Regions from separate parts of the Homo sapiens genome. Here region 1 is linked to region 2. The links come from fine-mapping of genetic effects on plasma protein levels. A gene starts in region 2. The other region holds a variant in brackets. All regions are shown on one strand. Distances are between the middles of the regions. Region 1 overlaps PAFAH2 (platelet activating factor acetylhydrolase 2). Region 2 holds the start of PAFAH2 (platelet activating factor acetylhydrolase 2).

Evidence for each region. PIP is the chance, under the fine-mapping model, that this variant and not a neighbour inherited with it causes the effect. Protein levels are from antibody-based Olink assays in UK Biobank. Linkage for the fine-mapping came from a reference panel and not from the study's own genotypes, which makes the PIPs less certain.
Region 1: its variant is fine-mapped to the plasma level of the PAFAH2 protein (UK Biobank, PIP 0.98). The variant lies in the coding sequence of PAFAH2. If it changes the protein, the assay may bind it differently, which can mimic a change of level.

The regions. Positions count from the first base shown.
Region 1 is chr1:25,971,671-25,977,016 of GRCh38, forward strand. PAFAH2 (platelet activating factor acetylhydrolase 2) reads right to left here. Exons shown (of 11, transcript NM_000437.4): 8 at 5,012-5,103; 9 at 2,810-2,980; 10 at 888-1,042. Among named protein-coding and RNA genes, the nearest start is that of PAFAH2, 24 kb to the right of the region's middle. The variant G/A (reference allele first, on the strand shown) is at 5,067.
Region 2 is chr1:25,995,626-26,000,999 of GRCh38, forward strand. It overlaps PAFAH2 (platelet activating factor acetylhydrolase 2), which reads right to left and starts at 2,438. Exons shown (of 11, transcript NM_000437.4): 1 at 2,400-2,438. RefSeq lists enhancers at 2,184-2,263, 2,434-2,523, 2,534-2,583.

The DNA.
Region 1 (5,346 bases), 24 kb before region 2:
ACTCTCATAAACAAACTCCCCTTTTTTTCTCAAGCTAAGTTTGTGAACCTCTAGTCTTTGTAACCAATAAAGCTTAATAAGAGGATGCCTCCTCTGGGTGGAAGCTGGACCATGGACCTCTGCAGGCCTCGCCCTTTAGCTGCTCTATGACTGATGACATTATTCATAGTCCTTCCATGCTTTGTTTCTTTAAAACACTTCCATAAATTTAGCCCGTTATCCTCATAAACTCCCCTACAATGCAGATAAGGTGGGCAATAATGAGTCTGGGTAAGGAGAGAGGTGGTGGAGTAGAGAGAGGTGAATACTCCATTTACAGGGAGGAAACCAAGGTTCAGAGAGGTTAAATGACTAGGCCAGGTCATTCTGCAAGTAAGATAGTCAGGATCTCCAAACTTTCAGTTAAGTATTTTTTCTTATTTATTTGTTTAATTATTTATTTAGAAACAAGGTCTTGCTCTGTTGCTCAGACTGGAGTTCAGTGGTGCAATCATGGCTCACTGCAGCCTAGACCTCCTAGGCTTAACTGATCCTCCCACCGTAGCCTCTCGAGTAGCTGGGACTATAGGTGTGTGCCACCACACCCAGCTAATTTTTTTTTTTTTTTGGTAAAGATAGAGTCTCACTATGTTGCTCAGACTGGTCTCGAACTCCTGGCCCCAAGCCATCCTCCCACCTCAACCCACCAAAGTGCTAGGATTACAGGCGTGAGCCACTGCACCTGGACTTGTTTTTTCTGTAATTCTATGTAAGTCTCTCCTTCACTCAGGTTTTCCATTTGCCATAAATCTCCTTCCCAGATCCCAGACATGTCAGAGTTCTCACTCTGCTGCAAGGAAATCTAAGGGACCCCACAGCTGCCCCAAGAGCCCCAGTTTTCTCCTTACCGAGGTGCTTCTGCAGGAAGGCCAACATGGCCCGTACCATAACCTCCTGCCCTTCATAGGGGTCCAGGCTCCCACGGGTTTCAGTGGAGAAGAATTTACCAATCAAGTTGCCAGTCACAAAAGCAAAGTCAGTTTGACTCCGATGAACAGAACCACTAGGGGAAAAGAAAAACAACTGGCAGGGGTCTGGCGGCTAGGGCATACAGATGTGTGTTAGGCACCTACTATGTGCAAGGTGCTTTTCATGTATTATCACACTTTATTTTCACAGCAACCTTGTAAGGGAAGTATTTTCCCCCTTGACAGAATCCAAGGAGAGAAACTATCTGCTTAGGGTCAGGTCATACAAGTAGTTGGGGATGGAGTTAGGATTTGAAGCCAGATGTGCTTGGCTTCAAAGCTGGCTTGACCCGTAGACTACAATGCCTGGCAGTGCAGGGAAAAGGTTGAGCTAGCAGGAGCAGGGACAGGAGCAAGGAGGTGGGATCTGTGGCACGTGGCATTTCTATGTTACTACAATCTATTAGCTGTGGCTTTTGCCTGGTGAATTTCAAACATTCACAAAACAAATGAAGTTATTCTTCAGAACTGTACCACAGAGTGAAGAGGGAAAAGGAATTACTTGCCTTTATTTAAACAATCAGAAAAGTAAGAGTGAGTGCTTTGTAAAAGGGGGTTTCTGGGTTGGAACTTAAGTCCTTTGGCAGAAAATAAATTTAATTTGCAGGTGAAATCCTTGCTAGGTTAATTTTGGGCTAAATTATTCATAACTGAATTTACTAGTCAATTCAGTGAGAGAAAGAGAATCTAAATGCTAAAGTATTTGTCTGATATCACAGAAAAACTGACTTTAAAAAATGCATTAGTTAAGGCACACAAAAAGGTGTATAGAATAATATATGGGATACTTGAGTATCCAGCACTCAGTTGAATAAACGATACATTGCCAGGCGTTAAGTCCCCTGAGTGTACCCCTTCCCAACTGGCCTCACCTCCTTTCCCTCCTGAATCTGACCTGGGGAAGCATTCAGGCAGTGTCTACTGCCATGAAACCTAACTGAACGAGGAGGGGTGGCCCTAGGAAAGAGGGCCAGGACCAAGATGAGCAAGGGAAGAAGCCACTGGCCATACTGCCGGCCCCAGTGCTCGAGGGCTCTGGATTTGGCACTTCAACTACCCAGTGACTCCAAAGGTCCATGGTATGCAGTCACTTGTCATTCTGCTGAAATAGGAACCAGATGGATCCCTGGATCCTGTGTGCCGCTGGGCTCAACTGCAGGGCAGGAGCAGTCCGTGAGATCTCAGCCCGACATCTGTGGCTCAATATCACCTCCCACATGTGGAACATTTCTTAAAGTCACTAAAAATGTTTTTTTCCCTGTGAAAAATGGCTCCCAAAAGAAAACTAACTGATAGTGCTGATGATGGAAGTGAAAAAATGTGGCTTCTCTTGACCAGAATATAGAAGGTTTATGGAAGACAACATATGTTAACAGTGATCTGTGATTCTGGTATTCATGAAGGTCTCTAGAAATGTGTCTGGTGAATATCAAAGGTCTACCATATTCACACTCTTCCAAAGACCCAATAAAATTCCCAAATGAGGCTAGCAATCTCTGGAACTCATCCAAACCCACACCACTTCCTTTCCAACACCCAACCCCATAATGCCCTTTTTCAGAAAGTACTAGGTAAATCCTGTCATAAAGTCAGATAAACTATGGAATAAATCACTGTAGATGGAGCTCAGTGGAGAAGAAGGACAGACAGAAAATTCTAAAAGAATTTAGACTTTGCAATTCAGGAAGTATTCAGGTATCCTACTAATGGGTAGAAAGTTTTGGGTAATCCAGAAGTTAAGGGCACCACAGCAAGTGGCAAATGGAGAGGGCCCTGGGATCACGACCTTGTGGTTTACTCACAGAACGGTTATGATCCTAGACTGTTCATGCTGGGCACATATCTTCTTCATCAAATTGACACTCTCCATTGTCTGGAATTTCTCAGTATTGATAAAGAACACAGGTCCTCGGGCCTTGGGGTAAAAGTCACGTTCCAGAGGAAACATCCAAGCATCCAGAGCCACCGCACACCTGGAATAGGACCAGACATTTGGAATTGCCATGCGGATCCCAGGCAAGAATAGTTAGGGTGGTGGAGGGAAGGGCGGAGTTCCTCCCTCTGGTGGGGTAAAGGCTCAGAAAGCCAGGAGGGGGGTACCAGGGCCCACGGCCTTCAGTCAGGATCTTAGGTAGGGATCACTTTTACTTTTCACCAAAGATCCTTCTAGATTTCAAACTCTCTGAGAACAAGGATCAGATATCCCTCTTCTCCTGGATCTACTCTCAGGTGACTGACCTGAGTTCCACAGAATGGCACTTCATTCATTTAATTATTCATTCATTCAACATTCATTGAGTGTCTACTATGTGCTTTGGATATAGACATAAATGAGTGTTCCTGCTTTCAAGGAGCTCCCAGTCCAGCAGGGAAGACAGAATAGACAAAGTGGCAAAACAATATAACTTAGTGCCCTGATTGCACAAGGTTCTATGTGAGGTCAGGAAAAGCCTCCTTGGTGCCAACAGCAAAACCATGTCACCAAGAGCAATATTATGGGCCTTAAGATTTTGCCATTTCCTTCCTCAGACCCCTGAAATGCTCCTCTATTCTTCTCCATCTCAATAAAGGACAATCATCTTCCACTCAAATAATAGATACACAAATGAAAAACCTTGGGCTGGGCATGGTGGTTCATCCCTGTAATCCCAGCACTTTGGGAGGCTGAGGCAGGAGGATCACTTGAGCCCAAGAGTTCAAGACCAGCCTGGGCAACATAGCAAGACACCATCTCTTAAAAAAAAAAATTAAAAAATTAGCAGGGCATGGTAGCATGTACCTGTAGTCCCAGCTATTTGAGAGGTTGAGGCATCACTTGAGCCCAGGAGGTTGAGGCTGCAGTGAGCTGATTGTACCACTGCACTCCAGCATAGGGCAACAGAGCAAGACCCTGTCTCAGAGGGAAAAAAATAAGAAGAAAAACCTGGATTTCCTCTCTTTCCTTCACCTCCCACATGACCAAATCCTGAAAACTCTAAGACATATCCTGACTCCAATCACTTCTCTCCATCCCACTATCTCAATCCTGATGTAAATTTATCATCTTTCACATTGACTCTGAAACAGAATCTCTCTAATGAGCCTCTAGGCTTTCAGTCTTGTCCTGCTACAATCCATTCTTCACATAGTAGCCAGAAGGATCTTTTAAAATGTAAGACTGATATTTCTCTGTTGAAAATCTTCAACAGTTTCCCATCATACGTAGAATAAAATATACACCTCCTTACCCTGGCCAGATGACCCTGTGATCTGGCCCCTGCTTCTCTCTCTGATCACAGCTTAAATTGCCTCCCCCTCACTCACTACGCTCCTCCCACCCTAACACAGCAAGCTTCTTTCCACTGCAGGGCCTTTGCATTAGCTATTCCTGCTGGCTGGAAAGATCTTCCTCTAGATCTTCACACGACTGGCTTCTTTGCCTTCCCAGTCTTGATTTCACTTTCTCAGAGACATATCAGCCTGTTTTCTTTTTTCTGTTTTTTTTGAGACAGGATCTTGCTCTATTGCCCAGGCTGAAGTGGTGCGGTCAGAGCTCACTGTAACCTGGAACTCCTGGGCTCAAGTGATCCTCCTGCCTCAGGCTTCAAAGTAGCCGGGACTACAGGCATGCACTATCACACTTGGCTGTTTTGTTTTTTTCAATTTTTTGTAGAGATGGGGTCTTGTGATGTTTCCTAGGCTGATCTCAAACTCCTGGCTTCAAGCAATCCTCCTGCCTCAGCCTCCCAAATCGCTGGGGTTACAGGAGTAAGCCAACATGCTCAGCTTTATTTTTCTTCATTGCACTTGGTCATGGGGATTTTATTATCGGTTGGCTTTTTCACTAGTCTGTCTCCTCCCACAATAATATAATCCCATGAAATCAGAGATCTTGTTTTCTTGTTTAACCGCTGAATCCTCAGTCCCTAAACAGTGCCAAGAATATAGTACTTGTGTAACAAATACTTTCTAAATGAATAAACGGTGTATGGAGCTAAGCACAGCAACACTACTAGGAAACTCACCGAAATTGGGTCTCCTTGGCCAAAGCCAGAATAGCTGTGGCCCCTCCAAATGAAT[G/A]TCCCATCACAGCCACACGGCTCATGTCAATGTTGCCCTGAGGAAAGTGGAGAACTTAGCCAAGTCAGAAACTCAGGACTGCTTCTTTAGGAATTCATCAGGAGCAAGAGGAAGAAATAGTGAGGCAATGAGGCCAAAGGCACAATACAGCAAGTGAGTCCACCAACACCACACTGTCAAGAATCTCTTACCTATGGAAGGGGCAACAGTCAAGCAATCCTTAGACTGAACAGCCTTGTGTAGGCAGGAATTGTGAGAATCACACTTTTCATGTTTACTT
Region 2 (5,374 bases):
CTTGCTATAATCCCCATGGCCACCCAGAAGCATGTTCCTATCACTAGACTTAATGTAGTGCCCTGCATATAGCTGGTCTCAATAATTAATTTATCCAATGAATACTATTTAATTTTTGGCACACTTATGCCTCATCTCTTCAGATCTACTCCGGGGGTAAAGATTGGGTTTTATATTTTTTTGTAGACCAAACTGTCTATCTGCATGCTTTCCCCATATAGTTGGGACTCAATAAATGTTCCTTCATTTGGCTATGATTTAAACCCATCTCAAGTCTTCTTTAATCTTTGTTTTTGATCTAAAAATAAGGCTATATGAAATAATGGGGGACAAAGGTTTTGATGACTCTGAATTCTACCCCTGTCACTTATTAGCTGTGTGATCTTGAACAAGTTCCTCAAACTCTAAGCTTCTGATAATTTATTCTCACAACAGAAATAATAACTATGGCCAGACGCAGTGGCTCATGCCTATAATCCCAGAACTTTGGGAGATCAAATGGGAAGGATTGCTTCAGCCCAGGAGTTCAAGACCAGCCTGGGCAACATGGCAAAATCCTGTCTCTATAAAAAAATTAAAAAAAAAAAAAATTAGCTGGATGTGGTGGTATGCAACTGCAGTCCCAGTTACTCAGGAGGCTGAGGTAGGAGGATTGCTGGGGCTTGGGAGCCGGAGGCCACAGTGAACCAAGATTGTGCCACTGCACTTCGGCCTGGGTGACAGAGCGAGGTCTTGTCTCAAAAAGAAATAGTAACTATGGGCCGGGCGCGGTGGGAGGCCGAGGCGGGCGGATCAGGAGGTCAGGAGATCGAGACCATCCTGGCTAACACGGTGAAACCCTGTCTGTACTAAAAAAAATACAAAATATTAGCTGGGCCTGGTGGCGGGCGCCTGTAGTCCCAGCTACTTGGGAGGCTGAAGCAGGAGAATGGCGTGAACCCGGGAGGCGGAGCTTGCAGTGAGCCGAGATCGCGCTACTGCACTCTAGCCTGGGCGACAGAGCGAGACTCCATCTCAAAAAAAAAGAAATAGTAACTACTCACGAGATTGTTGATGAGGATTAAATAATGCATGTAAAGCACTCGATGGATAGAAGGTACTATAACCATAGGAGGCAACTATAATTATTTTAACTACATGCCTCTCAAGTTCCTTATACGTAAAATGGATACTTCGTAAGTGAAAATATTGCCTAGGGCCTGGTGCATTTTCAGTGCTTATAAAATGTTAGGAACTAATTAACAATGCTATGTCTCTCTTTCCTAGCCAAGGTCTCTCATTTTTCCTGGATTAAGCCCTTTGGCAAAACAGATTCTTTCCCAGCAGCCTTTTCAGGCCTCAGACACCCCTACCAAAGCCAGTGTCTACTGAACAGGCCCAGAGGAGCCCAGAGGGAATGGATGGGGCTTAGGTTGCAGCTGTCCTCTCCTGCTGGGACCCTGTTTCTGGTGAGCAGAGGACTGCTGCTCTGCCAGCTGTGTGACACTTTCATCACTGGCTATTTCAAGATACAGTCCAAGATAAGCACTTCTCTTGTGCTTCCTTTCAGACAAAGCTCTCTGAAGACTAAAAGCTCATTGGCCTGACCTTTGGTCTCTGGAGGAAGTGAGGAAATATCATCCAGCTCGTAGACAATGAAGACACCAAGCACTCGAGGGATGAGATTGAGCAACAAGGTGGCAGAGCTAGAGAAGAGGCCTGATAAGAGTGTTCCAGAGCATTAATAATTGTGATAAAAATAATCTCTGTCTCTTGTGAAGGTCTTACAGTTTACAAGGCATCTTCACACATACTAGCTTGTTGGCTCCTCAACACTCCTCACCTGAGACTGATGGAGCAACAGTCATCTCCGTTTTAGAGAGGAAGAAACTGAGTCCCAGAGTTGTATGATTTGCCCAAGGTCACAGAGGGTGAGAGGCAGAGCTGGCCTAGAACCGGGTCTGCTGACTTCGAGTCCAGGGTAATCGCGGATCGGAAAGAAGGAATGGGGACCCTTCTTCCACCGCCATGAAAAACAGAAAACTGAGAGTAAGAGTAAAGTACACAAAGGGTGGAGGAGCATAAAGAAGCCCGGGGTTCAGGGATGTGAGGCTGCAGGGTGAAGGTAGGGCCGAGGAATCAGGGTAGGGCTGTGGGGTCCAAGGTGGGGCTGCGGGGGCTGGGTCCTGGGACGGGAGCTCAGTGGGGATTCCAGGGGCACTGGCCGTTAAAAGTGCGAGGCGACCGTGGGAGGGTCAAGGGAGCGGGTGGCTACAGGTGTCTGAATAGGAAACGTAAAGGACGAAGATTAATGTGCAATTCCTATGACTGAGAGACGCCGAGGCCCCAAACCGGGCCAGAATACAAAAGTCTGCAGGAAGCTCAATTGAGATATAGGTGTTTTCTCCAATCAAACTTACCCAGTCAAGCTGATTCCTCAGAAGCAGCCCCAGACGTTTAACTCGACGGAAATGAGAAACGACCCATGAACCCGTGGCCCTTTGGTCGTCGTAGTTTCCAAGGCTCAAAATGGACGCTTGGAAGCACTTCTCGTTCCTCAATCTAGAACTACAATTCCCGATGTACAGTGCGCGAGATTGCGCATTACAACTCTAAAACTACACCTCCCAGAGTTCTACGCGACCGTCCAGCCCCGCGTGGTCGTGCGAAACCGCCCAAGGCCTGGGATGCGGTGTGATTCCTCCCCCTGGTGGCCTGAAGAGGTGCCGCCGCGATTTCTGCTCTCGAGCGGAGGGTTTTGCCTTAGTCCCGTGCGTAACCCTCCGCCTCACCCTCCTCAAATAGTCCTCAGGCGTGCCTAGAAATGGTCCCCGCTTCGCTTTATTCTCAAGGAGGTGGGAGGAGGTTGGAGTTTGTTTTGTGTCTTCTGCACACTTTGCTTCCTGTAAGAATAATAGACTGATCATTCAAATTAAGGGGACATTCCCTACCAGCCTGCATCTGTTGACACCTGTGATTTTCCATTGTCCTCAAAAGACTCCCTGGCAGAGAAAGGGGAGGAACCCGAGTAATCTGCTGGGCCGCATCCATCCCACATTACTGTCTAATGCTGGTTCTTAGCGACACTGATGGACAAGATACCGCTCCTAGCCTCAACAGAATCACAGTCTAGCAGAGAATTCAGACAAATGAATAATGACAGCACAGAGCCGTGATCTCATGGGGAGACACAGCAAGCGTGGGAGCCTTGAAAAGGGGCCTCTGGCCAGGCTTGGGGGAAAAGGGCGGTGTCCGCAAGGCTTTTTAGAGGGAGTGATGTTTGTTAACATTGAGACCCGATATAAGGAAAGAACGTAGCCAGGAGTACAGAGACTGTGAAGGACGTTTCAGAGTATGGCATTAAGTTCAGTGCTGGCTGCAGCTAAGTGTGAGGGATGGAAGGAGAGTATTCTCGGGGGAGTGGGCGTTAGGCAGAGCCCATCCTCAGGAGTTCTGTAAACTTCTATAGGAAATTTGGATCGTTCAGGCAGCTCAAAAACGTTCAACGGCCCTCTACTACCTATGAAGTGAAGTCCCAACTGCTTAGCCTGACATTCAAGGTCTTCTCCAACCTGCACTCCCCCACGCCCCACCCCCCACCCTTCAGCGCCCCTCCTCTGGGAGCTTTGTTCATGCCTCCAAAGTTTCCGCCGACATCTGTGTGTGCCTCGCACATGTGAGTCGACTCACACTGCCTTGGGTATCTCCTGTATTAGAGGTCTTAACTCTTGACACATTGTGAGCTCTTTGAGGTCAGGTACTGAGTCCTGCAGTCGCCCCCTCCACCCTACTCTTGCAGCCCACATCCCCCCGAAACACCAGGGTCCAGAGTCCCTGCTTTAGGCTCTCCTCTCCTGCCGACACACTGTTGTCACCCCCATCCTTCCAGGAGCCAAGATAAAGTCATCAGGAGAGAGTGCTGGCAGCCCTGCACTGTGGTAATTAAGCCTCGGATCTCATTAAATCTGTGGCTGATGGCGGTGGCCACAGAACCTGAAAAGCTTAGCGCAGATCAGAGAGCGGCTCCCTTTGGCCCATTAATCCGTGCTGTGCAGCTGGCCAGAACACTCACGACAAGCCAGAGGTCCTTGGTCATGAGAGGGACAGCTGGAGGTCATTTCTTTCAGTCTCCTACTCCCAGACCAGGCCATGCTGGAGCCATTTGCTGGCCAGCTGAGTTTAAAATTTCCCAGGGATGGGCATGTCACCACCTCCTTTACCTCCTTTGTCACAGTTAGGAAGCTCTTCCTTGGGCACAATCAGATTCTTCCCTGTTGCAAAATAAAACAGTTGAGTTTAACTATACTTCCTTCCAATCCGGTCTTTTCTAGGATAAACAACCCAAATGCCTTTACCTTTTTAAGCAAATGGTTGATTTTCCAGCATTTTCATCATAGATCTCATCCTCCAGTAGCCCAAAGTTCCCTTCAAATCTATCAGCTACCATCCCAACTCTGGCCTTTACTTTGTTGCTAAATTGCTTCAAGTTGGTATTTGGGTGACCAGCTTTGGATTTCCTTTTTTTTAGGGGGGCGGGGGGGACAGAGTCTCGCTCTGTGGCCCAGTGGCGGGATCTCAGCTCACCGCAGCCTCCGCCTCCTGGGTTCAAGCAGTTCTCCCATCTCAGCCTCCATAGTAGCTGGGATTACAGGCACATTACCACACCTGGCTAATTTTTGTATTTTTAGTAGAGATGGGTTTTCATCATGTTGGCCAGGCTGATCTTGGACTCCTGGCCTCAAGTAATCTGCCCACCTTGGCCTTCCAAAGTGCTGGGATTACAGGTGTGAGCCACCACGCACCACCAGTGGACAAAACTTTTAAAATAAAGGTAGAATAGGTATACAATAAAGTATGTAATGGGCACTAAAGTATACAGCTTAACTTCTTAAAAACATTTGCTATAACTACCATTTACTTCAAAATGTAGGACGTTTCCAATATCCTGAAAGGTTGGCTTCTCAGTTGTAATCAATCACCCCCACCCATCCTCCAGAAGGAACAACTACTTTCCGTCTCTTATCATCAACTAGTTTTGAGAAGCAACATTTTTTAACTTTGATAATAACATTTTATGCTCACTGATAGCTGATACTTGTGTCGATGCCATTCCAGTCAAAGACCACCGGAAACACACCTGTATTAAAGAAGTTGTATTAATTATTCATTGCAGCAAGAGAGAAGGCAGGCAATGGGGAAATAAGGGCAAAGGGGGTGCATTTCTGTAGGAAGGTGGAAGAAAGAATTTACAGAATTTGGGCTTTTGTTAGACAATCTGGGGAGAGTTTAAGGAAGCAGGGCTTGGCTTTGGATTGGATGCTGTCAAGAGCAAGGGTAATTCTATGACTGGGGGTCTTGATAAAATGTATCTAGAAGGAGGGGAGGCTAGACCAAG